Homo sapiens: one gene and its partners. The protein of the gene in region 4 interacts with the protein of the main gene of each other region in a pairwise test. Each region holds a gene or a part of one and is shown on either strand. Other genes may lie near its edges. The genes, in order: GSN, AQP3, SYT3 and MRM1.

Region 1 (7,861 bases), on a different chromosome or scaffold from region 4:
TTGAACTCCCGACCTCAGGTGATCCGCCCGCCTTAGCCTCCCAAAGTGCTGGGATTACAGGCATGAACCACCACGCCCAGGCTAGGCTCTCCTTTCTTTAGCTCCTGGAGACCTCCCTCTCTCTGGCCACAGCCCTCATTTTAATGCAACTGCTTTTATTTAACATACATTAGGGGACAGGCCCTCAGGTGGGATGGAGGGGAGGATTTAGAGCCCCCAAGCTGAAGGAAAGAAGGGGGAAACTTAATAGCTGCATCCGGACAGCAGCAGGCCCCCCACCCCGGCTCCTACCTGGCTCGCTGCCTTCTGCCACCTGCACAGGTTGGGCCCGCAGCACCCTGAGCAGCTCCTGGGCCCCCGTCTTCTCTGCCTCGCTGGCTCCTGTACCCACCCACAGGTAGGCGGCTGAGGGGGTTTTCAGAACAAAGGCATCGTTGGAGTTCAGTGCACCAGCCTTAGGCAATACCTGGGAGGGTACAGCTTGGTTAATCAGGAACCAGACAAAAAGCCCTCAGCCCCCTCCTCACAGCCCAGGAGACCCCGCAGCAGGACTAGCTCTCAGGTGGGGACTTGGAGGAACACAGCCCATCAGAGCTGAGGGCACAGACTTTGGACCCTGATGGCCTTGGTTGACTCCCATGAGTCACTAATGCACTGTGACTAGCCAACATGATTCTAAAAATCAGGGCTGCATTAACAGAAGTTGAATGCCCAGAACAAAGGAGGTGAGAGTCCCATTCCCCTCTAGGCTGCTCAGACCATCCTGGGAATCAAGTCCAGATCTGTGCCTTCCTCCGTGAAAGGGATAGTAGGCAACTGGAACGTAATCAGGAATGGCATGCTGATTGTACAGAATGGTAGGTAGTGAGCTGTCCACTGTGCAAAGTGTGCAAGGGACACTGGGTATCCTTGAAACAGGGGGGAGTCTAAGACAGACAACCCTGTGGCCACGGCAGGAAAATACAAAAAGCTGCTTCTTACCCCGTCATTCACCATCCCCTGCCCCCGTTCCTGTGCCTGGAGATCTGGTCATTGAGCTGGGAGGTTTCAGGGAGGCCAATCCCTTCTGTGTTCCAGGACCTGGAAATTACCTCAACAGCCCGGGTGGCTCCAGCGCTGTTGGCGCGGACCTGGAAGAGGCGGGTGCTGGCAGGGGCTGTCTGCCCGCCCTCGCGGGAGGTGCCGCCCTTGTAGATGATCATGGGCTTCCCACCAAACAGGCTCATGAGGTGGGCGGGCTCCTTGCCTTGGACCACACGGCTCTGGCAGGGAGACAGGAGAGCAAGTCAGGGACCTTGGGGGCAGGCTTCAGTCCTTCTATGTCGCACTGGGCCCATCCCTCCAGACGAAGCCATCATGCTTGTGTCTGTGTGTGGCATGGAATGTGACCCGACAACACACAGGCAGGGACACCAGAATTCCAGGAAGGGTGGAGACAGTGCTATTGTCTGAGGTCCCCAGGGCACTGCTGCTGGGCTGCTCTCCATCTCCATGACGACATGCCTTCCTGATCCTCAGCCTGGTCCAAGAACCAGGAGAGCCTGTGTTTGCAAATGTTCCCTTAAATAGAAGCACAGGGATTGCTGGTGGACATTCTTCCAGAATGCTGACGTCAGGCCTGGGCATGACTGCTGGTGGAGTGGTAAGAACAGAGCATTCTAGATCCAGAAAACCCCCTCCTGCAGAGCCAGTGCACCCCAGATGCGGGCAGCAGTCAGGGGCTTGGTGGTGGGAGTGAGGCAGGGAAGATGTACACCCTCACATCTGCTCCTGCCCTGTGTGCGGCACCTTACCGTGGCCCCGGCTAACTATGTCCAGAAGAAAACCTCACATGTACGTCAGGCATATGGCAGTCGCTTCCCACCACGACCCACCACCGCTGAGTTAGGGCTTAGACCCCAACTCCACCCTGATGGTGAGAACTTGGGCACGTGTCTCAACCTCTTGAGTTCCTCCTCTGAAAAATGCAGCCAAGGATGCTACTCCCAAGGCTGTTGTCAGGATGCACTGAGCTAAGATGGTCATCATCTCATTTAGTGCCCAGCACCCAGTCTATCATAGTCAAAGGTCAGGGCACGAACCCCCGATGCCAATCTAGAGCCCTGCCCACTCCCACCGTAGGACGGAGGAAGCACAGTTGTTGTCCGCTTCCCCTATATTTCCACAAACCAGCTCTGCTGCCCTCCAGCGCCTGGCCAGAGTGACTTTTTAAACCAGAAATCCCTACACCTCAGACTTATCATTCAGCAACTTCCTGTTGTTCTCAGCATCAAGGTCAACATCGTCACTATGGCCTCTGGTGGTCTGGCCCCTCTGAGCACCTCTCTAGCCTCAAATCATGGCATTTTCCCCTTGCTTTAACACCCAATGCCCCCTCCCACCTCAGGGCCTTTGCATGTGTACCACCCTTTACCCACAATGTGCTTTCCTTCACTCTGCCTGGGCAACTCCTACACGTGCATCAGGTCCCAGTTGAACAGTCCCCTCCTGGGACAGGGGTGGGCTTTTCTAATCCAATAGGATCCTACCTAGGATTTACCTCCTTGTACTTAACACATATGTATAAGGGGGCACTTCTTATATGGCAGGCATGATTCTAAATGCTTACAAATGTTAACTCTTAATCCTCACAGCAATCTTGTGGGATGGTACTGTTATTACCCCTATTTTGAGGACACAGAGGCACAGAGAGGCTAAGTGACTTGCCCAACGTTGCCCAGAGGTGAGGACAGGATTCAAACCCAAGCATGCTGGTTCCACATCCGTGCTCAGCCACATGGCCTCTCCCATGTCTCTCTCCCAAGGTCTTGTCAATTTCACTCACTGCATCTGTCATAGCCATTGGTGTGCCTGTGTGTTGAATGTCTACTACCACCCAAGACAGCAAAGTCCACTAGGGCAGGGACAGTGTGTCTGTGTGTCCATGGCTACAGATGCAGTGTGGAACACATGGAAGCCCTAAATAAATACCTGTTCCATGGATGGATGGATGGATGGATGGATGGATGGATGGATGGATGGACAGACAGACAGATGGACAAACGAATGGATGGATGAGAGTCAGACAGATGAGTGAAGAGAAGGACAAGGCTCAGGCTGCAGCCCAGAGAGGCGGTGGGCTGGGCTCACCTGGACAGGGGTACCTCCCAGCTCCTCATCCAGCTGAGCAGTCAGGATGGCAGATGCAGCGACCTCATCCTGGGTAGACTGGGCACCCTGCCTGGAAGGGGAAGTGAGATTCAGCATCAGGGTGCACACAGAGCCCTGAGCCTCTCCCTTGCCCTGAGTCTGAGAAACCTACACATCTCCCTGTTACCAGTAATGAAACAGATAGAGAGGGAAGGGGACTCTTTCAGAACAACGAGAGCCAGGAACCACACCAACACTTCCACTCTCAGCCTAGCATCTTGCCCGCTTACAGAGATCTTAGTGCAACGCATGGATTTCCTTATGCTAAATGTGTCCCACAGGAGACTGGCTGGGTCATCCCATGCTGAACAGCCACAGAGAAGATGCTCTGAGACTCAAATCTGAGATGCAGAAAAGTGGCCAGGACATTTCTCTGGGCGGAAAAGCAGGTCGCAGAATAGCAAGTGTTACGAGAGCCTATTTGTGGGAAAAGATGTCAGTGATTAAGCCTCCCATGAACACGTGCAGAGAGGTCTGCACAGATGTTCACCAAAAAGGTCCATGGTGATTGCTCTTAGAGGGAAGATTTAGGGGGATTTTGCCTTTCTATCCCACCTCTTTGCATATTGTCTAAGTTTTCCATAACCAACATATGTCGTCGTATAAGCAAACAAAATCTGACCTATTAATGCGCTGATGCAGCTAATTTTTAAAACAGTCTTCTCACACATTTTGTACCAGGTGAATGTGTTATCTAGTCAAAAAAAAAATTAAGCTGTTTTTAAATGTCTGGGGTTGTCAAATTGAGAGACATTCTACAAAATAACTGACTAGTACCCTTTAAAAGTGTTAAGGGCATGAAAAAAAGGAAAGACCGGGCAACTGCCATAGATTCAGAGACTTTGGAGACATGATGAGTAAATGCCATGTGGGATCCTGGGTTAGATCCTAGATCAGGAAAAGAACAGTAGTGGGGGCCGGGCACGATGGCTCATGCCTGTCATCCCAGCACTTTGGGAGGCCAAGGCAGGCAGATCAGTTGAGGTCAGGAGTTCGAAACCAGCCTGCCCAACATGGTGAAACTCCGTCTCTACTAAAAATACAAAAATTAGTTGGGTGTGTTGGCGCACACCTGTAGTCCCAGATACTCAGGAGGCTGAGGCAGGAGAATTGCTTGAACCTGGGAGGCAGAGGTTGCAGTGAGCCGAGATCATGCCACTGCACTCCAGCCTGGCGACAGAGCAAGACTCTGTCTAAAAAAAAAAAAAAAAAACGGTAATGGGAAAACTGAGGAAATTTAGGTAAAGCCTATAGATTAGTAAGTAGTATTGTGTCAATGTTCACTTCCTGGCTTTGTTAATTGTGCTATGGTTATGTAAGGGTTATGTAAGATGTGAACATAGGTGAATATTCCATTGGGTAATGGATATATGAGAACTGTCTGTACTATTTTTGCAACTTTTCAGCAAGTGTCTAATATTATTTCAAAATAAGTTTAAAAAAAGAAGGAATCCAGCTTGGCGTGGTGGCTCATGCCTATAATCCCAACACTTTGGGAGGCTGGGGCAGGCAGATCGCTTAGAGGAGTTCGAGACCAGCCTGGGCAACATGGCAAAGCCCCATCCATACTAAAGTATAAAAAGTAGCCGGGTGTGGTGGTGAGTAGTGGCAAGTAGTCCCAGCTACTCAGGAGGCTGAGGCACGATAATTGCTTGAGCCCCGGGGGGCAGAGGTTGTGGTGAGCAGAGATCGTACCACTGCACTACAGCCTGGCCAACAGAGCAAGACCCTGTCTCAAAAAAAAAAAAAAATCCAACAGTCAATAATCAGACAAAAAGTTTTAGACTGTATAGTAAGAGAAATACAAGTTAAAAATACACTGAGACACCATTTTATAAACCATAAGATTGGCAAACGCCCAAAAGTTTGACCACACAATCCACGAGTGTGACTATAGGGAACCAGGGACTCTCACAGGTTGCTTGGTGGGAATGTAAAATGCTACGAACACTATCGAGGGAAATTGGGGGCTATCTACCAAAATGACAAGTGCAGTTACTCTTTGACCCAGCAATCTGACTTCTGGGAACTTACTCTAGAGGCATGTCTCTGCATGTTCAAAGTGATGTTTGTTTAAGGTTACTAATCACAGCAATGTTTGTAATAGAGAAAGACTGGAATCAACCCAAGTATGCATCATCAAGGAATTTGTTAAATAAACTATAGTACAGCCACCCAAAGGACTATTATGCAACTGTAAAAAAGAATGAGAAAGCTCTCTGTCTCTATGTACTGACATTATTGATCTCTAGGAAGAATGGAGTCAGAAAAGCAAGGTGCAGGGCAATATACAAAGTATGCTACCTTTTGTGTAAGGAAGGGAGGGACCAGGCTATAAATTATTTGCATATGTATTTTTTTTCACGAAGAGTTACTGGAAGGATATGCAAGAGAGTAAAGCAGTTACCCAAGAAGGGGTGGGGTCTGGAGAATGGGGTAGAGAGGGACAGGGGTGGGAATAAGATTTCTCAATAAATACCTTTATATTCTGTTTTGATTTTTGAACCATGTAAATGTATTCTCTGTTTTAAAATAATTTTGGGGCTGGGTGTGGTGGCTCACTCCTGTAACCCCAGCACTTTGGGAGGCTGAGGCAGATGGATCATCTGAGGTCAGGAGTTCGAGACCAGCCTGGTCAACATAGTGAAACCCCGTCTTTACTAAAAATACAAAAAATTAGCCAGGCATGGTGGTGGGTGCCTGTAATCCCAGCTACTAGAGAGGCTGAGGCAGGAGAATTGCTTGAACTTGGGAGGCAGAGGTTGCAGTGAGCGAGACCGCACCACTGCACTCCAGCCTAGGCAACAAGAGAAAAACTCTGTCTCAAAATAAATAAATAAATAAATAAATAAACAAATATAAATTTAAAAAAATTTTGGCTTGAAAAATATGTGTGGGAGGATAAACCCTAGTGTGCCTAGTACTTGTCATGGATTTGTGGGAGATGTTCTGTTTGTTTCTCCACATTCACTATATCCTACAATAGATGTATAATCATTTGGTAAGAAGAGTTTCAAAGTTGTTTGGAGAAATAAGCAAATGGTGTTGCCCTGTGGACAAAAGCCTCTCCCAGCAGGGAGTGGTGGTCCCACCTCAGGCCCTCACACCCTCAGTTTGTCTTCAGCCCTGCTCAGGGCCCAGCCAGTACCCCCACGACACACACCAATGGCCCCAGAACCTCACCAGTTATAGATTATCTGCCCCTGGCGGCCACCATGGCGGTAGTTGTACAGAATGATGTAGCTGTCGCCTCCATAGAACTGTCCATATGTGGCAGGGTCCACGGGCACCTTGTTGGAACCTTCGATTCTCCAGATCTGCAGGAGCAAAGCTGGAGTCAGATGCTGTGCAGCACCCCCACCCCCCAGCTCAGGCAAGCCAGGAAACCGCAGTGTGGTAGGTTGTGGTTAGGCCATGGGATGAACTTTTAATCACTTGGGCTCGGACTGGAGTTAAATGGTTTGCCCAACTCACAGAGCCACTAGAAGGCAGGGCTGGGACTCTGGGTCAGGGTTCCTGCCTGGGCTCCTCATACCATGCCCTGCCCCAGCCCGTCTGTCCTTCGCTGAGGATCGTCAAGGCAGCTCCAAAGGAATGCAGTACAGTGAGGGGAGGAGCCAGACACAGACCCCAAATCAGGCCCCTCATCCCCTTCCGGGCCATGAGACCTCAGACAACTGGCTTAACCACTCTTAGCCTCAGTTTTCCCATCTGAAAAATGGGGATAATCATAGTACCTACCTCAAAGTACTGTGAGGCTCAAACGAGATTACTCGTGAAAGTCTAGCACAGGGCCCGGCACAAAGGGACTGCTCTGTAGGTGGCAGCTGCTCTTATTGTCATAATTATTATTATTATCTTACTAATATCACCATTACCTCTATTGTTACTGAGCTGCCTGGATTCTTTCTTTTTTTCTTTTTTTTTTTTTTGTTTTTTGAGACGAGGTTTCACTCTTGTTGCCCAGGCTAGAATGCAATGACGCAATCTCGGCTCACTGCAACATCTGCCTCCCGGGTTCAATCAATTTTTCTGTCTCAGCCTCCCGAGTAGCTGGGATTACAGGTGCCTGCCACCATGGCCAGCTAAGTTTTGTATTTTTAGTAGAGACGGGGTTTCACCATGTTGGCCAGGCTGGTCTCGAACTCCTGACCTCAGGTGATCCACCCGCCTCGGCCACCCAAAGTGCTGGGATTACAGGCGTGAGCCACTGTGCTGGGCCTGCCAGGAATTTCATAGGTCACCTGCAGAGGCAGGGACACCACGAGGCAACCTCAGTGTGACCCCTGCTGGCAGGTCTCCGCAGCGTTCTGGTGACACTGCTTTTTCCAAGTGGTCACGAGGCCCGGCAGCGCCACCTGGTGGAGCTATGGAGACACGGAGTCGTCCAAGTCCTGGGAAACAGAATCCTAGAATCTCTGGATTTTGAACATTCTTGAAGGTGATGGAGTGGGATGAAACCCCACTTTACAAGTGAGAAAGTGAAGCTCAAAGAGGTTATGTAACTTGCCCAAAGTCTCACAGTCAGGCTGCCAGGGGTCTTACCACACCGCCCCACCCGAAATATTTTCATTGCATTCTCCCTAGCCACTGAAGCAACAAATGAATGCTAGCACCAAACCAAAAACAATAATATATAAAAATGAACACTTTGTTATTCCTATCATTAGGA
Region 2 (8,239 bases), on a different chromosome or scaffold from region 4:
GTAGGGGAACAGCTTTCACCTTAGCACAAGTTTCTCCACAGCCCTTCAGGCCTGGACCATAAAGGTGGGAAGCCTCTCACTCATCCCCCAGCTGCCCCAAAGAAAAGCTCATGTAGGCCCGGTGCAGTGGCTCACACTGTAATCCCAGCACTTTGGTAGGCCGAGGTGGGTGGATCACCTGAGGTCAGGAGTTTGAGACCAGCCTGGCCAACATAGTGAAACCCCATCTCTACTAAAAGTACAAAAATTAGCCAGGCGTGGTGGCAGGTGCCTGTAATCCCAGCTACTCGGGAGGCTGAGGCAGGAGAATCACTTGAAAATGGGAGGCAGATGTTGCAGTGAGCCAAGATTGCGCCACTGCACTTCAGCCTGGGCGACAGAGCGGGACTCCATCTCAAAAAAAAAAAAAAAAGAGTTGAAAAGAAAAGCTCATGTGGTGGTGGTAGTGGTGGCAATGGGCGGCATAAATAAATAGGGAGGAGACCAGAAGTGAGGTTGAATCCACTTCTCCTGAGTCCAGGATGCCAGAGCCCCAGCCTTCACCATGTCCCCCTCAACAACCTCCCCTTCCTTTACCTGTCCCTGTCCCAGCGTCTCCTCTCTCCACCCATGACCTCTCTGCTCTCAGGGGTCCAGATTCCCCACTCAGATTTGGAGGTCCTACAGACAGGGATCTGTGTGGCTCCTCTCACTATCCCCAGCCCGGGACCCAGGGCTGTAGAAATGGGGAGATCGGTTCTAAACTTTCTGCCAAAAATGGGGGAACTAAAAGAGACTAAGAGCCCTGGTGTTCTACAAATATAGAACATACTGGAGCCAGCTGTGGTGGCTCACACCTGTAATCCCAGCACTTTGGAGGCTGAGATGGGAGGATCTTGAACCCAGGAGTTTGAGAACAGCCTGGGCAACATAGTGAGACTTTGTCTCTATTTAAAAAAGAAAAAGAACGTACTATGTCTGTTCCCCTTGTTCAAGCCTGAAAATACTTCTGCAGCAGCTGTAAAGCATTGTTGCCCTGAGCCCCCTGAGTGTCCCTCAAAGCTGCTCCAATGCCTTGCCCTGGTCTCCTCTCCCACCTGCCCATAACTAAAGGTTTTATGCCCACAGAGCAGGCAGTTTCCAGGACCTGTGCTACAGACCTTGTTTATTCTGACGGGTCAGTGCCTGTTGTACTGGATAGTTAAGCATTTTGATTATCATCCCAGAAAGACCAAGAGATAACGGAGAAGCCAGCGGCAATGACATGGGGCAAAGGTGTGCAGGCAGGTGAGAGCAAAGATCAGAGATTGCAGGTGTATGTGTGAGGAGGGGTGGTGGGAGACAGGCACGTGAGGGTCTGAGGCGCCCTGCCCTGCTTGGGAGGCCCTGGCAGCAGCTCCTTGCCTGCCAAAGGCTCAGACCTGGCTCCATCCCAGGACGCCTTGGAGGGAGGAGCTGTCAGAGCCAGTTCCACCACCTTGGGGCTAATCTTCCTCTTCCTCCCCCAACCCCTGCCCTGAGTTCTCGGCCAGCACCGCCCCCTGCCCTCACACCAGGTATCTCAGAGAAAGGGGCTTTCCTCACCCCAAAGCCAACCCTGATTCTGCCACTGCAGGCCTAGGCTCCCAACACGCAGGTAGGCAGGCAGGCACTCACCCACTACAAAGGGATCCCCAGGCCTGCCCCTCCAGTTCATGCAGTCCTTGAAGTTCTGCTTCTCACTGATATCCAATACCTCACATCCATCTGAGTCTGCAACCCTTCCCCTAAAATTTAACACTCTTCTTTTGTGGTCTGGGATAAGCCTGATGATCCTGGGGCTCAGTGGGAGGACTAACGGCTCCTTTGTGAGAGAGTGAACTGAGACTTGGGAGGGAATGAGGAGGCCCCTCTAGGAAAATAGAAGACATCATCCTCCCCTAGCCTGGCTGCTCTAAAACAGGTGGCTGGACTCAGGACTCCGATAGGAGTGAGGGCTCCGAGGCAGGAGAGTGATAAAGGCCACCTCCTATTGCCTTCTTGGCACAGGAGAGAGGGGCTAGGGCTGGCTGATAGGACGACTAATCTTATGGGAGGCTGTGGATAAAATGCCCCCTGTGGCTTCCCCACTTCCTATTCTTGGAAGCCAGAAGTGGGTTTCAGCCCTCCTCTGCCCATAGATCCTGATCCTCAACCATTTGGGGATCCCTACTTGCCCTTAGTTAGGCTTCCTAGTCCACAGTGGGCCAGCTGGTCTGTACTACCCAGGGCTGGGGCAGGAACGGAGTAACCCACTCACTGCAATGTAGCAACTGAACACAGAGGAAAACAGGTGTAACCACATGAGCGGCTGAAAAATCAGAGTAACTGGGACAGGAAATAGAACATAACTGGTGGGTCTGCCAGACCTAAGAAGTGCAAACAGAGTCACTCAGAACAAAACCAGGGTGAAACTGGTGTGACCAAGGAGTAACTAGGACTGAGGAGTAACTCAGGCAGGGAAATGCTCACTCAGAGAACCCACAGAGTAACCAAGAGGCCAGGGAGTAACCAGAATGCTTGTCGTCTTCTGCACAGACGCTGACAGCATCTGTCTGGATAACAGACAGGGCCTGGGAGTCGCTGAGCACCAGGTGAGCAACTTTAGACACGCGTCCTCTGTGCCTGGGCCTAGCTTCCTCCCACCCTTCTACCGTCAGAATCTGCCTCCCTTCCCACTTCGCTGTTCGCAGCCCATGTGGCCTGCACCCTCTGCCCCCACTCGTGCAAACTGTCCTCACTCACTTCAACCTTTGGACTTTTTGAGGCTTAATTATTCATTAGAGGCCAGACACCCAGGACCCAAATAACCTAATAATGGCTCATTTGCCTCCGCCCCCTCCCCTACATCTGGGGGCTGGGATTCTGGGAATCTGGAGGGGTGTGGGAGGCAGGGGAAGTGGCTGGCTGTCCCAGACTGCAAGCGTGACCGCTGCCCCCAGCCTGTTGGCTGAGTCACTTGTGGGAGGGTAAACGATCGGCACTATCACTGGGGAGTAACAGCTGTCATTCTGGCAAGAGTCGGAGCTGTCAGAGAGGGGGTTAGAACCGTGGGGAAGAGGACTTTGGAAGTCAGCTTGATCCTCCGCGGTTAAGCGTGGGGGTCACAGCTGGGGAGGTGGGTCCAGGCTACCTTGGAAAACACAGCCCCTTCGGGGAAGTGAGAGTTTGGGGAGTGCAAGGGCTGGAGAGAGAAGGGCTTCCCCGGCTCCCTCCACTCACCACCAGGATGAGGGTCCCCAGGCACTCGGCCAGCGCCTGTCGGAGCAGCCGGTAGCGGATGTGGAGCATCTCCCCGCAGCGGGACACCAGCTCCTTCTGTCGACCCATGGCGGGGCAGGCGGCGGCGCTGTCGGGCGGGCAGGGGTGGCGGGAGGCGGTGGCGCAGCGAGCAGCGGCCTCCAGCGCTGGTGGCTCCCTTTATAGGAGCGCTGGAGACACGGGCCCCGCCCGCCCTGCAGCCCCGCCCTGCAGTCCCGGAGCGCCGAGGAGTGCGCGCCCCCTCGCCCCCGCCCCACCTCGGCTGGGAGGCTGGTGCGGACGCCGGGTGGAGGGAGCTGCGGGCATGGAGTGTGAGGAGCTTTGAGGGACGGGTGGCCTTCGGAGGGCGCTTAAGGGAGGGGACGTCAAGGGGGCTGAGAGGCTTAGGCAGATCTGAGAGCCAATGGTGGGATTATAGGCAGGGTTCAGGGCCATGGCTGGAGAGGATGCAGCTGTCATAGAGACCACCTGCGCCCTGTGATCACCCCACTTCCTTGCGGGCAGGAGGAGACCTGTCAGAAAGAAACTGGCCGCATCTCTCCAGGATGACTGGACCCAACAGATCCTCAGTTCGAGGCAGGAGGAGGAGGCTGCGAGCCCCAAGTGAGAAGCAACACTGTCTCTTCTGTCAGGACAGATAAGGCACCGACCCTTCAAGGGGACAGCTAGTGTCAGAGGGGCAGCAGTCCAGACTCAGGTGGGCACACAGACACACGTGCTGAGTTCCAACCAGACTTCATGGGCCCTTCTCCCTGTGCTATGAGCACGTCGTGTGTCGCATGTCCTGGCCAGCTATGTCCACAGCTGTGTCTACACATGGCGGATGTCCTGTGTGCCTAATTGTACGGCTGGGCATTCCTCGTGGCTGTGCACATGCCTGTTGAACATGGCTAGGTGACCTAGCTTGTCACACGTGTACCTGCGTGCATTGCTCACATGGCTCCAGAGGCTGAGCTGCAGTTGCCCCGACATGCCACATGCCACATGTTTGCCAGCAGGCTGAGTCCCAGCTGTTTTTAACCCTCTCCTCTCCCATCTGACTTACCCCCAGCCAAGGAAGAGTCTGTCTCTTTTTTTTTTTTAGACGGAGTCTCTCTCTGTCGCCTAGGTGGAGTGCAATGGCGTGATCTCGGCTCCCTGCAACCTCCACCTCCCAGGTTCAAGTGATTCTCCTGCTTCAGCCTCCCGATTAGCTGGGATTACAGGTGCACACCACCATGCCCAGCTAATTTTTGTTTTTTTAGTGGAGATGGGGATTCACCATGTTGACCAGGCTGATTTCGAACTCCTGACCACAAGTTATCCACCCGCCTCAGCCTCCCAAAGTGCTGGGATTACAGGCGTGAGCCACTGAGCCCAGCAAGTCTGCCTCTTTAAGCAAACTTAATTATGGGGGAGTCAGCCCTATCTGAGGGGGATCATGGGACAACCTTGCCCTCTCTCTCTTTTTAAAGAGTAGGGTCTTGCTCCATCACCCAGGCTGTGGTGCAATCACAGCTCACTGTAGCCTCGAACTCCTGGGCCCAAGTGATCCTCCCACCTCAGCCTCCAGAATGGATGGGACTATAGGGACTATGTGCCACCATGACACTCAGCTAATTTTTAAAAATCTGTTGTAAAAATGAGGTCTTGCTATGTTGCCCAGGTTAGTCTCAAACTCCTGGCTTTAAACGATCCTCCCACCTCGGCCTCCCGAAGTGCAACCTTGCCCTCTATGCTGCTTTTAATAACAAGGAAACATCTGGTGGCCTGGGAGCAAACAACATGCCCTTAGGCTGAGCTTCTATGGCAGCATTGCCAGAGGAGATCAAAGAAATCATTTTCCAGAGGGACTTAATCCAGGTGGGCTAATGACCCTGAGGACTTGTCCCTTGAGGGACGAATATGAGAAATAAGGGCCCCCGGCTGGGCGTGGTGGCTCACGCCTATAATCCCAGCACTTTGGGAGGCCGAGGCGGGCAGATCACCTGAGGTCAGGAGTTCAAGACCACACTGACCAACATGGTGAAACCCTGTCTCTACTAAAAATACCAAAAATTAGCCGGGCGTGATGGCGGGTGCCTGTAATCTCAGCTGTTCGGGAGGCTGAGGCAGGAGAATCACTTGAACCCAGGAGGCGGAAGTTGCAGTGACCTGAGATCATGCCATTGCACTCCAGCCTGGGCAACAAGAGCCAAACTCCATCTCAAAAAAAAAAAAAAAAAAAAGGGCTCCCACGGTTCATTGAGAAGCGAGCAGGGCTAGTGCAGAGGTTCTTCTCCCAGAGGGACCAAAAGAGAGAAGGGTTAGTCCTGTCGTCCTTGATCAGAAATGTGATCAGCACCAAGAAAGCCCCAGGGGCCACTGGGACCTACAGTCAAACTATGTTAGGTGACAGGACCATTGACATTTCAGGACAGATAGGCATGGACCCTTCAAGTGGACAGGTTGTGTCAGGAGAGGTAGCAGAAGAAGCTAAACAAGCTCTTAAAAACATGGATGATGACTCACTCCAGCCTCTAGCTCATGGGATCAAACAATCCTCCCACCTCAGCCTCTCAAATAGCTGGGACTACAGGCATGCATCACGATGCCCGGCTAATTTTTGTATTGTTTGTAGAGAAGGGGTTTCGCCATGTTGGCCAGGCTGGTCTGGAACTCCCGAGCTCAAGCAATTTGCCCACCTTGGCCTCCTAGAGTGCTTGGATTGTAGGATTATGAGTATTGCTAAACCCATCTCTTTGGGCATCAACCACCTCTGCCACATGCCTGTAATCCCAGCTACTCGGGAGGCTGAGACAGGAGGATCACTTGAACCCAGGAGGCAGAGGTTGCAGTGAGCCAAGATCACCCCACCTGGGTTCAAGCGATTCTCCTGCTTCAGCTTCCCGAGTAGCTGGGATTACAGGCATGCACCACCATGTCCAGCCAATTTTTTTGTTTTTTGTTTTTTGTTTTTTTTAGTAGAGACGGGGTTTCACCACGTTGGCCAGGCTGGTCTCGAACTCCTGACCTCAGGTGATCCACCCGTCTCGGCCTCCCAAAGTGCTGGGATTACAGGCATGATTCACCGTACCTGGCCTAGATAGGCATGTTAAAAAAGAAAAGAAAAGAAAGGAAATAAGGGCTCCCAGTCCCAGAGGTGGTTCATGCCCAAAGAGATGGGTTTAGCATACACATGAAGTAGATTCACATACATGCAGGTGCTTGCGCATACACACACACAAACACACAGACACACACACACACCCTGTGGTTTGCAGTCACACACTTGCCTATAGACACTGAGCTCTGCTCCCATGATCAGGGATCCCATTCACATGAGAGCCTCGCCATGGGCTCACACATATATAGAACCCCCACATGAGGACTCTAATGACCCTTGACCCAGAAAGATGCACCCTACCCTCCAGGCCTCTATAGGCTGGGAGGCCCCGTGGTGAATCAGGGAGCCATCACTGAGTACCTGCCCTCTGGCCCCACTGCCAGCCTGTGACTCAAGACAGAACCATAGACTCCTGGTGCCAGGGCCCAGATCACAGGCTATGGGAGTGGTAGAGCACCCCTGCCATGCTGCCCCCTTTTCCTCCCACCCTATAATATGCATCCAGCCCATCCCTGCCTCAAGTGGAGCTGCAAAGGCAGCACAGGGCAGAAACTGGCAAGGGACTCCTCAACACCGAAAGAAAATAGGGAAACCCAGCCCACAACACCCCATTGTCACCCTGTCCCATCCTGGGTCTGCTGGCATCCAAATCTAGCCTGGGAACCAGAGCAGGGGAGAAAAACAGGGGAAGCTCTTTCACCAGCAGACACTACACACACTTCTATTTTTTATTTCTTTTCCTCTTCCCTTATAAAAGCAACCTGGAGGCCGGGCATGGTGGCTCGCGCCTACAATCTCAGCTCTTTGGGAGGCTGAGGTGGGCGGATCACAAGGTCAGCAGATCGAGACCATCCTGGCCAATAAGGTGAAACCCCATCTCTACTAAAAATAAAATAAAAAAAAATTAGCTGGGTGTGGTGGTGGGCGCCTGTAGTCCCAGCTACTCGGGAGGCTGAGGCAGGAGAATGGCATGAACCTGGGAGGCAGAGCTTGCAGTGAGCCAAGATGGCGCCACTGCACTCTTGCCTGGGCAACAGAGCGAGACTCCATCACAAAAAAAAAAAAAAAAAAAAAAAAAAGGAACCTGGCCTGGAGCCGGGCACAGTGGCTCATGCCTGTAATCCCAGAATTTTGGGAGGCCAAGCCAGGCAGATCATTTTAGCTCAGGAGTTCAAGACCAGCCTGGCCAACATGGTAAAACCCTGTCTCCACTAAAAACACAAAAATTAGGCCGGGTACGATGGCTTGCTCCTATAATCCCAGCACTTTGGGAGGCCAAGGCAGATGGATCACCTGAGGTCAGGAGTTCGAGACCAGCCTGGCCAACATGGATAAATCCCATCTCTACTAAAAATACAAAAATTAGCCAGGTGTGGTGGTGTGCGCCTGTAGTCCCAGCTACTTGGGAGGCTGAGGCAGGAGAATCGCTTGAACTCGGGAGGCAGAGCTTGCAGTGAGTCGAGATCGTGCCATTGCACTCCAGCCTGGGCAACAAGAGCGAAATTCTATCCCCTCGCCAAAAAAAAATTAGCCGGGCATGGTGGTAGGCACCTGTAATCCCAGCTACTCGGGAGGCTGAGGCCAGAGAATCGCTTGAGCCCAGGAGGCTGAGGTTGCAGTGAGCAGAGATCGCACCACTGCACTCCAGCCTGGGCGACAGAGACAGACTCCGTCTCAAAAAGCAAATAAACAAAAAAGCAACCTGCACACACATCTGTCTGCATTCACCTCACATGGGTTTTCTCGTGGGCTGCACCAGGAAGTAGCTAGTTACACACACAATTATGGATTTGTCTGTCTTATATACGTTGAGCAGCATTTATTTATACATATGCAGCTACCTGTACTCACCCATGTATGCATGCATGTATGTGTCTATCTATAATCCTGGACTGC
Region 3 (7,861 bases), on a different chromosome or scaffold from region 4:
GATCCCGGGCCTAGGCCAGACCTGCACGATGGAGCAGGAAAGGAGGGGTCAGCAATGGCAGAGAACTGCACCACGACCTCCTGTAGCTCCATCACCACCCAGAGATCCAGGAGTCCCAGGCGCAGCCCCTCCTCCCTCAGACCCAGGAGTCCAGGCCCCCAGCCCCTCCTCCCTCAGACGCAGGCATCTCCACCCCCAGCCCCTTCCCTGTGGCCAGGCTGCTTACCCCTCACTCGGAGTTCTCTTTCTCTGATAGTCCTTTGCTGCCTTTTGTGAAGCTGGTCACAGTCTTTTCCTAAAGGAGAAAGTGCAGAAGGTTCGGGAGTGAGAGACAGAGAGTTGAAACAGATGCTAATCATCAACAGGAGAAGACGTCAATCCTGTTTCATTATTTAGGATGCGCTTTCTCACTTGGCCCTGAAGTGACGGACAGATGGTATTACAATTCCATTCTACAGATGGGGAAATGGAGGCACAAAAAAGAGGAGTCTCTGCAAATGCGAGGAGAGATGAGGCTGTAGGGATGAGTGGGGCAAGTCCTGCATGGTATCAGAGGGGCTGAGACTCTGTCCTGGGGCCACTGGGGAGCCACGGGAGGGCTGTGAGCAAGGAAGGGGAGGGGAAGCTCTGGGTGTAGAAGGATCTTCTGGGGCCACAGGGAGCATGAGGGGCTGAAATTCATGGGCAGTGTCAGGACTCGGCCTAGACTCTGTGCCACCAGCGTTGCCCAACATGGGCAGTGGCTCACCAGAAACTCCTGGGAAGGTTGGTGGGATGAATTAATGAACGGATGAATGAGTGAATGACAGGAGGAGGGAGTAGCCTCCATCCTATCCACCTTAGTAGAGTCCCCGTCTTTTCCAATCTCAAATCTGAGTTCTGTGCCCAGGTGTCGGGTCCCTCATGATCACTGGAAAAAAGCCCACAGCAGGGCCAGACTAAATCTGGTGATGTGGTGAAAGTTTCACCCAGTACTAAATGTAAATGTGTGCCCCAAATGCAGCAATCAAGATAAAGAATATTTCATGCAATATTGGCCAGGCGCGGTGGCTCACGCCTATAATCCCAGCACTTTGGGAGCCCAAGGTGGGTGGATCACTTGAGGTGGGAAGTTGAGACCAGCCTGGACAACATGGCAAAACCCTGTCTCTACAAAAAAAAAAAAAAAAAAAAAAAAAAAAAAAAAAAAAAATTAGCAGGGTGAGGTGGCACACGCCTGTAGTCCCAGCTACTTGGGAGGCTGAAGCAGGAGAATCACTTGTACTCAGGGAGGGGGAGGTTGCAGTGAGCCAAGACTGCAACACTGCACTCCAGCCTGGGTGACAGAGTGAGACTCTGTCTCAATAATAACAATAATAATAATAATGCAAGATTTTAAAAAAAATCAAAATTAATGCAAAAAAATCAATGATGAAGAAAATATCAAATTTTTAAAAAAGGCCAGTCTCATGCCACATCAGACTGCTATTTCAAAGGAAATGTATGTGCCCTCATATACTTGCTTTTTTTTTTTTTTTAAGGAGAGGGGTTCCTGCTCCATTGCCCAGGCTGGAGTGTGGTGGTGAGATCATAGCTCACTGCAGTAACAAACTCCTGGGCTCAAGAGATCCTCCTGCCTCAGCCTCCTGAGTAGCAGGGACTATAAGCACACACTACCATGCCTAGCTAATTCCTAAATTATTTTTGTAGAGACAGGCTCTCCCCATGTTGCTCAGGCTAGTCTTAAACTCCCAGGCTCAAGTGATCCACCCACCTTGGCCTCCCAAGGCCTGTGCTGGGATTTCAGGCATGAGCCACTGTGCCCTGCCCAAGTTTTTATATATTTTTTCTAAATTTATTTTTCCTGGAATGCTAAACTAGTTGAAAAATACTGAAAAATGAAGTAAGTGTGTTGAAATTCACAACATTATTTTACATTTAAATCTTTCATATATACCCTAGACAGAATTTGAATAATTTGACTTTCTTGGCTTTTAATGGAGGCAAATCTGCCAATAACACTTTCTAAAGCTACTTCTTTGCTCCTCTTGTTTTCTATTGAGAGAATGGCCATGTTTGATTATTTCTCCTGATCAAGCGATAATCTTAAATGACTTTTTTTTTTTTTTTTGAGACAGAGTCTTGCTCTGTCGCCCAGGCTGGAGTGCAATGGCGCCACCTCAGCTCACCGCAACCTCTGCCTCCCAGGTTCAAGCGATTCTCCTGCCTCAGCCTCCCAAGTAGCTGGGATTACAGGCGTGCGCCACCACGCCCAGCTAATTTTGTATTTTTAGTAGAGACAGGGTTTCTCCATGTTGGTCAGGCTGGTCTCAAACTCCTGACCTCAGGTGATCCACCCTCCTCGGCCTCCCAAAGTGCTGGGATTACAGGCGTGAGCCACCACGCCCAGCCCCCTCTATTTTCAACTTAGCCTCATGGGTAACAACAGCAGCGACCACCTACAGAACGTTTAACTCAGCACATCTCACCTCTATCCTAACAGAAGATGCTATCAACAGTCCCATTTCCTAGTGGGTAAATTGAGGCACAGAGCGCTTGGGTAACTGGCTCTAAGCCGCACAGCTAAAGTTGGCACAGCAGGGATTGAAACCTAGGACGCCTGGCTCTGCGACTCACGAACATGCAGGGCGTTCGTTGCATGGATGAAGGGGCCGAGGGTGCACGGGTGCTTGTCAGGGGTCGGTGTGGGACCCCTACTCACCTCCACTAGCTGATGCCAGTGCTCCACGGGCTTGCGGGGATTGGCCAGCATCTCTGCCCAGTGCTCGCGGCCGTGCGGGTCGGCAGCGTCGGGGCCCACACGGCACACGCCGATCACCTCGTTGTGCCCGATGCTGGGGGTTGGGGTCAGTGAGGACCGTGGAGGGTGGTGGGAGGGCCTGTCCCCACCCCAGCCCTCCTGCCTGACCCCCGCCCGGGCCGCGCCCCTCACCAGTCGTAGTCTACCACGGCGATGCTGAGCCCCACGTTCTCCACGCTCTCGGGGGCCACGTCGAACACCAGCGCCTCATTATAGGTGGGGTTCAGCGTGTTCTTCTTGATGGAGGTTTTCCGCTTCTTCAGACGCCGCCCCTCGCTGATCAGGGAGGCCTTCACGTAGGGGTCTGGGAACAGCAATGAAGTAAGGAACAGAGACTCACTCCCTCAGACCTAGGGGTCCAGGACCCCAGGCCCCGAGCCCCTCCTCCCTCAGACCCAGAGGTCCGGGGCCCCAGGCCCCCAGTCCCTCCTTCCTCAGGCCCAAGAGTCCAGACCCCAGGTCCTCCTCTCTCCGACCCAGGAGTCCAGGCCCCTGGCCCCTCCTCCCTCAGACCCAGGAGTCCAGATCCCCAGCTCCTCCTCCCTCAGACCCAGGAGTCCAGGCCCCTGGCCCCTCCTCCCTCAGACCCAGGAGTCCAGGCCCCCAGCCCTCCTCCCTCAGACCCAGGACCCTCACCTGAGAAGCCAGTGAGGTCCATCGCTTTGAGGTTAGAGGCTTTGATGATGGTCACGGTGAGGCGCCCGGCCGTGGGGAGGTAGCAGAGTGAGAAGTTGAGCTCCCCAAGATCTGCTTTTTCCTGCAGTTGGGGAAAAGGTCAGCGATATCTTGCCTCAGCCCCTCTTCAACTCTCCCTGATTTTCTCTCCGGTCGGAGCCTCCTGCTTTACACCCTGACATCCAGGGCTCAGGCTTCCCATCCACTTAGCAATCTGACTCTTGGGACAAGGCCCAGTAATTCCCTGGCCACAGCTGCCCATGACCATCAAAGCTTATTTGTTCTGCAGGAAAGATTGGAAGAAGCATGAGTGAGGGGAGAGAGAGAGGAGGGGAGAGACAGAGAAGGTGAGAGAGAGAGAAAACACAAAGAGAAATAGACTGAGACAGAAGCCAAAACACGGAGGGATACAGCTGGAAAGACAGACCCACAGGCAAAGTTCTCAAGTCAGAGGGACAGAGGCCCAGAGACAGACACAGAGAGAGACCCAGAGAGAGGGAGACAGAGACCCAGAAAGAGAGGGAGACAGAGACCCAGAGAGAGAGGGGGACAGAGGCCCAGAGAGAGAGGGGGGGGGACAGAGACCCAGAGAGGAGGACAGAGACCCAGAGAGAGAGGAGGACAGAAGCCCAGAGAGAGAGGAGGACAGAGGCCCAGAAAGAGAGGGGGACAGAGACCCAGAGAGAGGAGGACAGACCCAGAGAGAGAAAGGGGCAGAGACCCAGACAGAGAGGGGGACAGAGACCCAGAGACAGAGAGATAGAGACCCAGAGAGAGACAGAAGCCCAGAGACAGGGGGTACAGAGACCCAGAGAGAGAAAGAGAGAGAGATATATATAGAGAGAGACTCAGAGAGAGACAGAGGCCCAGAGAGAGAGAGGGACAGAGACAGTGGGTTGGGGGTGCATAAAGACCCAGAGAGAGTGATAGTTACCTAGAATTAGAGTGGAGGGGCAGAGACCAGAGAGCGAGAGAGAAACCTAGACTCAGATACCCTACTCCCTGCACCAAGAGAAAGAGAGAGAGAGAGAGAGAGGCTGACTCAGACAGAGTGGGACAAAGACCAAGCAGACACACACACATAAACCAGCCTGAGAGAGGGCAGGAGATTCATCAACCTCCACCGAAGTTTCCAGGACTGCCCCCAACCCTGACACACAGGCTGGAGCCACGCTGGAGCTAGCTGGGAGCTTTGACCAACCTGGCCTAGCCCTGCGGCCTCCCAACTGTGCCCAGGACTCCCTACTCATTCCCCTCAGGGCATCTGCCCAGGCTGTCCCTCTGCCAGAACACTCTTCCCTCTATCTCTCCTTGGCCTTTGAGCCTCCCCTCGTTCCACAAGCTCCCAGATCCCCCACAGCCCTGCAGAGGCTCCTCCTGTGCCTCCCCATAACCCTGGCCCCTGACACAAGGCCCGACCATCTAGACCTGGAGCTGCCGAGGGCTGCCTGGGGTCCCCAGGCCCTGCTCCTGAAAAAAACAGTGGTTGAAGAAATGAATGAAGGCTGGGTGCAGTGGCTGATGCCTGTAATCCCAGCACTTTGGGAGGCTGAGGTGGGCGGTTAACCTGAGCTCAGGAGTTCGAGACCAGCCTGGCCAGCATGGCGAAACCCTGTCTCTACTAAAAATACAAAAATTAGCCGGGCATGGTGGCAGGTGCCTGTAATCCCAGCTACTTGGGTGACTGAAGCATGAGAATCACAATCACTTGAACCCGGGAGGTGGAGGTTGCAGTGAGCTGAGATTGCGCCACTGTACTCCAGCCTGGGTGACAGAGAGAGACTCTGTCTCAAAAAAAAAAAAAAAAAAATGAGAGAGAGAGAATGTATGAATCAATGGAATGAGTGAGGAAAACCTCAAGTGATGATGATGGAGAGAGAAAATGAGAAGGGTGAGCACAAGAATTAGGCCAGCATGGATACAGAGAGAAGGCCCTGGCATGGGGCTGCCATGGGTGATGACTGGGAGTAGGAGCTGGTGGAATACACAGGGGCCCTGGGACCTTGGAACTGGGCACTTCAATCTCAAAGGCTGGGCTTGGGGGCCAAGCAGGCAGGCTGGGGAGGGCCCCATGAAGAAGCCTACCCAAAGAGCTACCCAAAAAGCCTACCTGGCACCCAGCTCAACTGGACATCTGTCATTGAACAGATGGGGAAACTGAGGCTCAGAAAAGGAAAGAACCTTGAGGAGGTCTAGTCCTCTCCTGATATGAAGGCCGCCCTCCCCACAACACACACACAGCTACCCCAGATTGGCAGAGAACTGGAATGTTGGATAATCCACAAATTAGGTTGGAGCGGGGGCGCTGTAGAGTTGAGGATCTGAGATTTGGTGGGGCAGAAGAGCTCAGGACACACACACAAGAAGTACCTAAGAATGGGGCTGGGGAGGGATTGGAGGTACAGGGAGAATGAGATACCAGAGGGCAGGGGTCGCAAGGAATAAGGAAGAAGCCATTGGGCCCTATAATCTGGATGCTGGGAGAACTGAGGAGTGTCTGCATATTGGGGATCCCAGGATGGCTGAGGCCTGGGGGATCAAGCTATCAGCATTCGGGCAGGGACCATGAAAAAACAGAGGGTCAGAATATGAAAGAGTTCCAATGTCAGGGGTTGGGAAAATTCAGAAGTTCAGAGATTAGAGAGGGATTGGGGCTTTCAGAAGTTCAGAGATTAGAGAGGGACTGGGGCTTCCAGAAGTCCAGTCATTGGAAAGTCAGGAAGTTAGGAAGGTAAGAAGTCTGGGGTGAGAGGGGAGAAGTCATGGGGTTGAGGCAGGAAGGCATCCTATGGCAAAGCGGGTGAGAGGTTGGAAAATCGGATCCAGACCTGATGCTAACATTTGGCGATGTTGAGGAGAGGAATGGTGTCCACTGTATCATTATCTGTTCTTTTTTTTTTTTTTTTGAGACGGAGTTTCGCTCTTGTTGCCTACGCTGGAGTGCAATGGCATGATCTCTGCTCACCACAACCTCCACTTCCTGGTGCAAGCGATTCTCCTGCCTCATCCTCCTAAGTAGCTGGGATTACAGGCATGTGCCACCATGCCCGGCTAATTTTTGTATTTTTAGTAGAGATGGGGTTTCTCCATGTTGGCCAGGCTGGTCTCGAACTCCCAACCTCAAGTGATCTGCCCACCTGGCCTCCCAAAGTGCTGGGATTATAGGCATGAGCTACCGCGCCCGGCTCATTCTCTATTCTTGCCTGTAAGTTTGCAGTCTTCCCCAGTGTGATACATTTTAACAGAAAAATGTGGGGACAAGAAGTGAGGAAGTTATGAACTCTGAGGGCAGGGGGCTTGCAACCCGGGGGGTCTCAGGGCCCTGGGAAGGGGAAGGTCAGGGGAGAGGGCCACTGACCGAGCCGCCCTCCACGATGTCCCTCCAGAGCGGGCGGTCAGGGGGCTGCTCGGCCAGCTCCAGGAGGTTGTCCAGCACCACCTGGCCGATGAGGTCGTGCCGCGAGAAGCGGTCAAAGTCATAGACGCTGAAGTGCAGTTTGCGTTGGGCCAGCTCGGCCAGGGGCACCGAGAATTGAAACGTCTCATTGAAGACGGGGTTCAGGGTCTTCCTGTGCACCTGGTGGTGGTGGGCGACAGGAGACAGACACCGTGCCCATAAGCCCCTCCTCCACAGGATCCAGGAGTCCAGCCCCCAGCCCCTCCTCCCTCAGACCCAGGAGTCCAGGCCCCCAGCCCCTCCTCCCTCAGACCCGGGAGTCCAGGCCCCCAGCCCCTCCTCCCTCAGACCCGGGAGTCCAGGCCCCCAGCCCCTCCTCCCTCAGACCCGGGAGTCCAGAGCCCTAGCTCCCTCTCTGTGGGAACCCGGTGTCCAGCCCGCTGCTCCGGACCTTGGTCTGAAACTTTTTCTTGCGGTCAGGCAGCAGGTAGATCTTGACGTAGGGGTCTGAGAAGCCGTTGGAGTCCTTGGCAGGGAGGTCCAGGGCCTGCAGGATCCTCACCACCAGCTGGTCCGAGCCATAGAGGTACCGCAGGGCGAAGCTGATACGGCCACAGGGTGCCCCTGTGCCTGCCTCTCCAGAGCCTGGGCCCCCACCGCTCCGCCGGCCACCAGGGCCAGTCCCCTGGTACAGCTCTGGCTTAATCTGCCCAATGAGTTTGGCTTTTTCCTCGCCTCCAGGCAGGGGTAAGGGCAGGGCAGGTGGCCGCTCCTCACTGCTGGGGTCCGGCTGGGAGGTCAGAGTCTGCTGGGTGAGGGGTCGGGGCAGGGCTGGGTACCTGTAGGGGGTTGGGGGGAGACCAAGGTGAGGTCAGTGGCTCTGATCTTCGACTGCATGCAGAGACCTGGGAGACTCCTCCCTGCCTTTCCCCCCATCCCCCAGCCAGGTGGCCACAAGTCCCCTCCTTTGCTCACTGTGTGAGCTTGAG
Region 4 (5,743 bases):
CCACTTTTCTCTTACACTCTCTTCAGCATGCAAGCAAACATTCCCCTCTCACGCTCTTGATCTCACACCAGTCAGCTCTTCCTCTCACACTGAATCAAAGGCTTCATCAAGGTCACCAGTGGCCTCCATGTTGCTGCATTCCAGGGTCTGTTCTCAATTCTTTTCTGACTTGACCCATCTGCAGCAGCTGGCACAGTTGACCACTCCTTCCTCCTTGAAACACTATACCTGCTTTCCTTCTGCTTCACCATGTCCTCTCTGAGAGACATTTTTAGTGGTTCTTCCTCAACCCCCTGACTTCCGAGCATTAGCATTTCCCAGATTTTAGTCCTCGGATCTCTTTTGTTGTTGTTGTTAAGAGATGGGGTCAGCTGGGCACAATGGCTCACGCATGTAATCCCAGCACTTTGGGAGGCTGAGGCAGGCAGATCATGAGGTCAGGAGATCAAGACCATCCTGGCTAACACGGTGAAACACCATCTCTACTAAAAATACAAAAAATTAGCTGGGTGTGGTGGTTCGTGCCTGTAGTCCCAGCTACTCGGGAGGCGGAGGTAGGAGAATCGCTTGAACCCGGGAGGTGGAGGTGGTAGTGAGCCGAGATTGTGCCACTGCACTCCAGCCTGAGTGACAGAGTGACGTGTCAAAAAAAAAAAAGAGATGAGGTCTTGGCCGGGAGCGGTTGTTAAGAGATGGGGTCTTGGCCAGGCACGGTGGCTCACGCCTATAATCCTAGAACTTTGGGAGGCTGAGGCAGGTGGATCACCTGAGGTCAGGAGTTCGAGACCAACCTGGCCAAAATGGTGAAACCCTGTCTCTACTAAAAATACAAAAATTACCTGGGCATGGTGGCGGGCACTTGTAATCCCAGCTGCTCGGGAGGCTGAGGCAGAAGAGTTGCTTGAATCCAGGAGGCGGAGGTTGCAGTGAGCCGAGATCACAGCGTTGCACTCCAGCCTGGGCAATAAGAGTGAAACTCTATCTCAAAAAAAAAAAAAAGAGAGAGAGAGAGAGAGAGAGATGGGGTCTTGCTGTGTTGCCCAGCCTGGAGTCCAGTGGCACAATCACAGCTCAGTATAGCCTCCGAATTCCTGGGCTCAAGCCATCCTCCCACCTCAGCCTCCTGAGTAGTTGGAGATACAGGTGCACACCATCTCACCTAATTTTTTTCTTTCTTTTTTCTTTTTCTTTTTTTTTTTGTAGAGATGAGGTCTCACTTTGTTGCCCAGGCTGGTCTCAAACTCCTGGCTTCAAGAAGTCCTCCTGCCTTAGCCTCCCAAAATGCTGGGATTACAGGCGTGAGCCACCTCACCTGGTCCTGGATCTCTTTTCTGTATATGTTCATTTCTTGTTGGTCTCATCTAGTCTCATGGCTTTAAATACTATCTGAATTCAAATTCCCGCCCAAGTGTATACTCCAGCCTGGACCTTGGTTCTGAATTCCAGATTCACTCATCTAGTTGCCTACTGCACAGTTGTTGTTATTGTTGTTGTTGTTTTGCTGTCAGGCGGGCATTTCAAACCTAACATTTCTAAAACTGAGCGCTTGTTCCTTCTGGAGCAACTCCATCCCTTTGGTTGTTTAGGTCAAAAACCTTGGCATCATCCTTAACTAAAGTTATTTCCGTATTATCACCATTTCTGCCTGTTTCCACTGCTACCACTCTGGCCCAAGCAAGTCACCATCATCTGTTGACCGTTATTGCAGAAACTTCCCACCTGGCCTCCTTTCTTCTGCTCTTGGCTCTCAGCACAGCAGGCAGAGTGATTCTGTTGAAGTCATACCATGTTACTTCTCTGCTCAAAACCTTTCAAAGCCTCTGTACCGCTCAGATTCAAAGGCAGAGTCCTTCCAGTAGCCCTGGAGACCATACCTCATGTGGCTCTTGTTCCTTCTTCTGTCTTGACGCCTCTCTTCCCACTGGCCACCTTACTGTTCTCAAACATGCCAGGGAGGCACCTGCCTCTGTGCTTGCTGATCTCTCTGCCTAGAATGTTCTTGCCCCAGATGTCTGCACGGTGCTCCTCCTTCTCCTTCAGGTCTGCACTCAAATGTCACCTCAGTGAGTCCATCCCCACCTGCCCTTCCACAAGGCTGGGATTTTGGTCTGTTTTGTTTTGTTCAGTGCCCTGTCCTCAGTGCCTAGAACAGAGCCCATGCTAGGTGCTTAATAACTATTGACTAATTGACTGGATCAGCAGATAAATGAATGTATGGGCAAGGCTGGGCTCTTCCTTGGCCAGGGCTCTGATGGATAATTTTTTTTTTTTTTTTTGAGATGGGGGTCTCACTCTGTCACCCAAGCAGGAGTGCAGTGGCGCAATCTTAGCTCGCTGCAATGTCTGCCTCCTGGTCTCAAGAGATCCTCGTGTCTCCTGAGTAGCTGGGATTACAGGCTGATTTTTGTATTTTTAGTAGAGACAGAGTTTCACCATGATGCTCAGGCTAGTCTTTTTTTTTTTTTTGAGACAGAGTGGAGTCTCGCTTTGTTGCCCAGGCTGGAGGCAGTGGTGTGCTCTCAGCTCACTGCAACCTCCGCCTCCCGGGTTCAAGCGATTCTCCTCCCTCAGACTCCCAAATAGCTGGGACTACAGGCATGTGCCACCACACCCAGCTAATTTTTTGTGTGTTTTTAGTAGAGACGGAGTTTCACCATGTTAGCCAGGGTGGTCTCAAACTCCTGACCTCAGGTGATCCGCCCGCCTCGGCCTCCCAAAGTGCTGGGATTACAGGCGTGAGCTACTGCGCCTGGTTTTTTGTTTTTTTTTTTAATTTGAGATGGAGTTTCACTCTTGCTGCCCAGGCTGGAGTACAATGGCGCAATCTCGGTTGACTGCAGCCTCTGCCTCCCGAGTTCAAGCGATTCTCCTGCCTCAGCCTCCTGAGTAGCTGGGATTACAGGCATGCACCACCATGCCCGGCTAATTTTGTATTTTTAGTAGAGACGGGGTTTCTCCATGTTGTTCAGACTGGTCTCGAACTCCCAACCTCAGGTGATCCCCCTGCCTTGGCCTCCCAAAGTGCTGGGGATTACAGGCGTGAGCCACCGTGCCTGGGCCAGGCTAGTTTTGAACTCCTGACCTCAGGTAATCTGCCTGCTTCAGCCTCCCAAAGTGCTGGAATTACAGGCTTGAGCCACTGCATACAGCCTCTGATGAAGATTTGATGAATTAGAATAGGAGAGGCAGGCATGGTGGCTGACGCTTGTAATCCTAGCACTCTGGGAGGCCAAGGTGGGAGGATCGCTTGAAGCCAGGAGTTCCAGACCAACCAGGGCAACATGGCAAAACCTCATCTCAAAAAAAAAAATGCAAAAACTAGCCGGGTGGGGTGGCGAGTGCCTGTAGTCCCAGCTACTTGGGAGGCTGAGGTGGGAGGATCACCAGAACCCAGGCGGTTGAGGCTGCGGTGAGCTGTGATCGTGCCACTGCACTCCAGCCTGAGCGAGAGTAAGACCCTATCTCAAAATTAAAATAAAAAAAGAATTAGAACATATCTTCTTCCCCCTTTCAGACCAAAGCCCAGCAGGGCTGGCTCGTGGCCGGCACGGTGGGCTGCCCAAGCACAGAGGATCCCCAGTCCTCCGAGATCCCCATCATGAGTTGCTTGGAGTTCCTCTGGGAACGGCCTACTCTCCTTGTGCTGGGTAGGTGGATGTCCCTGCGTTTGTGCCCAGATTACATTTCCCGAGCAACTGGGTGTCCAGCTGGGCAACCCTAACCCTCAGCCCCACGCCCTGCAGGGAATGAGGGCTCAGGTCTATCCCAGGAGGTGCAGGCCTCCTGCCAGCTTCTCCTCACCATCCTGCCCCGGCGCCAGCTGCCTCCTGGACTTGAGTCCTTGAACGTCTCTGTGGCTGCAGGTGAGTCTACTCCCCTTTCCCTTTCCTCTATCCCTCTAATCACGCAGGTGGGATTTGATGCCCTCTAATCCCATTTGCTGGCTGTTTGTGTGCCTCAGTTGCTTTATGTACAAAATGGGGAAATTACATCCCGTTGATGAGATGAGGGGCTGCCTGAATGTCTAGGTCTCTAAACATCATCCTTCTCCTCCGTCCTCTCTTCCCTTGTCCTTGTGTCTGTGCAGGAATTCTTCTTCACTCCATTTGCAGCCAGAGGAAGGGTTTCCCCACAGAGGGGGAGAGAAGGCAGCTTCTCCAAGACCCCCAAGAACCCTCAGCCAGGTCTGAAGGGCTCAGCATGGCTCAGCACCCAGGGCTGTCTTCAGGCCCAGAGAAAGAGAGGCAAAATGAGGGCTGACGTGGACTGTCCACAGTGTTCATGTGCTGGAGTCAGGGACGGCCGCACCTGCCTCCGCCGGCTCCAGTGTGCGGGGAGCCTCTGCCTGAGTGTGCACCAGGCCCATGTTTATTGACCACAGTCTGGGGGGGGGGGAAGGGGACTGCGGTGGACACCAGAGGAAGCTGTTTCCTGTTGTGATGTTGGACCTGTAGTAGGACATGGTGATTTGTTAATTTCCATGGGAAGCCATGATGGCCTAGCATGGAGGGAATCTGTTCCCAGGCCCTGCCTGGAAGTTGAGGGAAAGTTTAGACATCTGCAGAGAGGCAGGCAGCCCAGCCCAGGGGACCCGTTCCTCTTGAACCAGTCATTGCCTGTGGCAAATGTGTGTATGAGAATGTGGGGGGTGGAGGGCGGGGCCCTGATGTGGAGTAGACAGTGCGCACCTCAGGCCCACACACGGCCCCGCCCTGGGGCCTTGAGCGCAGGCCTCATCTTTCTGTGCCGCGGGACTCCGCACCTACCTCACAGGGTTGTTGTGAGGCTCAAATAAAACATCACTCAGCACGTGGGAGATTCTGGCCAATTCCTCCGTTAGGTGGCAGCCTCGCTCTTCGGTCCAGTCTTCAGGCAGCTTCCACAGCCTCCTTGCGGGGAGACTCCTGGCTGCAGCCCCATGAGAGGCGACGGGAAATTAGCAAACACCTCCCACCCCACGGGGGCCCCCCACGGGTGACTGAGTCAGTTCCCTTCAAGGGGAGGAACTGGGAGCAGGCTTGCCGTTGATTGTACAACCGAGACAGATTTGGCACTCCTCCCCTCGGGTCCCAGGAAAGCAGCAGGAGCCAGCAGTGTGAGGAGCATAGAAGTGTTTCTGTCCTGGTGGCACATTGGAACCACCTGGCATGCTTTAAAAAACCCAACACTGACACCAGAGAGTCTGACATGATGGGTGTGGCGCCACCTGGCATCCGGCTTTCGAAAGCGCCACCATTGGTCTAATGTGCAGCCAAGGCTGAGAATCACCACTAGGGCAGGTGGACTCAAATTCCACACCCTTGACATTTTGGGCCAGATAATTTTTTGTTGTGAGAGCCATCCTGTGCACTGTAGGATGTTTAGCAGAATCCCCGACCTATACGCACTAGATGCCTGTAGCATGACCTCTCATTATGAAACCAGAAATGTCTCCAGACGTTGCCAGATGGCTTCTAAGAGACAAAAATCTCCCCTCCTGGAGCATGGCTTTGGAGGATAGCAACCCCGAACTTGCAATCCTGACTGCTATGTGACCTTGGGGGGGCGCTCCTTACCCACCTGGGCCTCGGTGCCCTCCTGGGCGAAAGGGGAATAATCCTACCTTCCTGGATTGTTGGGAGAATATGGAGGGCAATAGGAACTCACATGTATTAGGTGCTCAATAAATAGTACTCCACTTTTCTCTGGAATCCATCTGCATTGGATTTGTCTCAATTCTAATAATGGCAATGCCAATTTAGAG

What was found.
Region 1: the proteins of MRM1 (region 4) and GSN interact in binary tests that used the Homo sapiens proteins (3 or more experiments, as listed by UniProt).
Region 2: the proteins of MRM1 (region 4) and AQP3 interact in binary tests that used the Homo sapiens proteins (3 or more experiments, as listed by UniProt).
Region 3: the proteins of MRM1 (region 4) and SYT3 interact in binary tests that used the Homo sapiens proteins (3 or more experiments, as listed by UniProt).

Annotation. Positions count from the first base shown.
Region 1 is NC_000009.12:121,319,913-121,327,773, reverse strand, and holds part of GSN (gelsolin), read right to left. Parts: intron 6,507-7,861; coding exon 6,373-6,506; intron 3,221-6,372; coding exon 3,130-3,220; intron 1,263-3,129; coding exon 1,092-1,262; intron 467-1,091; coding exon 292-466; intron 1-291. UniProt on the Homo sapiens protein: Calcium-regulated, actin-modulating protein that binds to the plus (or barbed) ends of actin monomers or filaments, preventing monomer exchange (end-blocking or capping).
Region 2 is NC_000009.12:33,444,204-33,452,442, forward strand, and holds the start of AQP3 (aquaporin-3), read right to left. Parts: upstream 3,391-8,239; 5' UTR 3,328-3,390; coding exon 3,220-3,327; intron 1-3,219. UniProt on the Homo sapiens protein: Aquaglyceroporins form homotetrameric transmembrane channels, with each monomer independently mediating glycerol and water transport across the plasma membrane along their osmotic gradient. Could also be permeable to urea.
Region 3 is NC_000019.10:50,622,461-50,630,321, forward strand, and holds part of SYT3 (synaptotagmin-3), read right to left. Parts: intron 7,712-7,861; coding exon 7,324-7,711; intron 7,053-7,323; coding exon 6,834-7,052; intron 3,558-6,833; coding exon 3,437-3,557; intron 3,105-3,436; coding exon 2,933-3,104; intron 2,835-2,932; coding exon 2,702-2,834; intron 296-2,701; coding exon 230-295; 3' UTR 227-229; intron 22-226; 3' UTR 1-21. UniProt on the Homo sapiens protein: Ca(2+) sensor involved in Ca(2+)-dependent exocytosis of secretory vesicles through Ca(2+) and phospholipid binding to the C2 domain.
Region 4 is NC_000017.11:36,604,156-36,609,898, forward strand, and holds the end of MRM1 (rRNA methyltransferase 1, mitochondrial precursor), read left to right. Parts: intron 1-3,514; coding exon 3,515-3,647; intron 3,648-3,743; coding exon 3,744-3,863; intron 3,864-4,087; coding exon 4,088-4,260; 3' UTR 4,261-4,809; downstream 4,810-5,743. UniProt on the Homo sapiens protein: S-adenosyl-L-methionine-dependent 2'-O-ribose methyltransferase that catalyzes the formation of 2'-O-methylguanosine at position 1145 (Gm1145) in the 16S mitochondrial large subunit ribosomal RNA (mtLSU rRNA), a universally conserved modification in the peptidyl transferase domain of the mtLSU rRNA.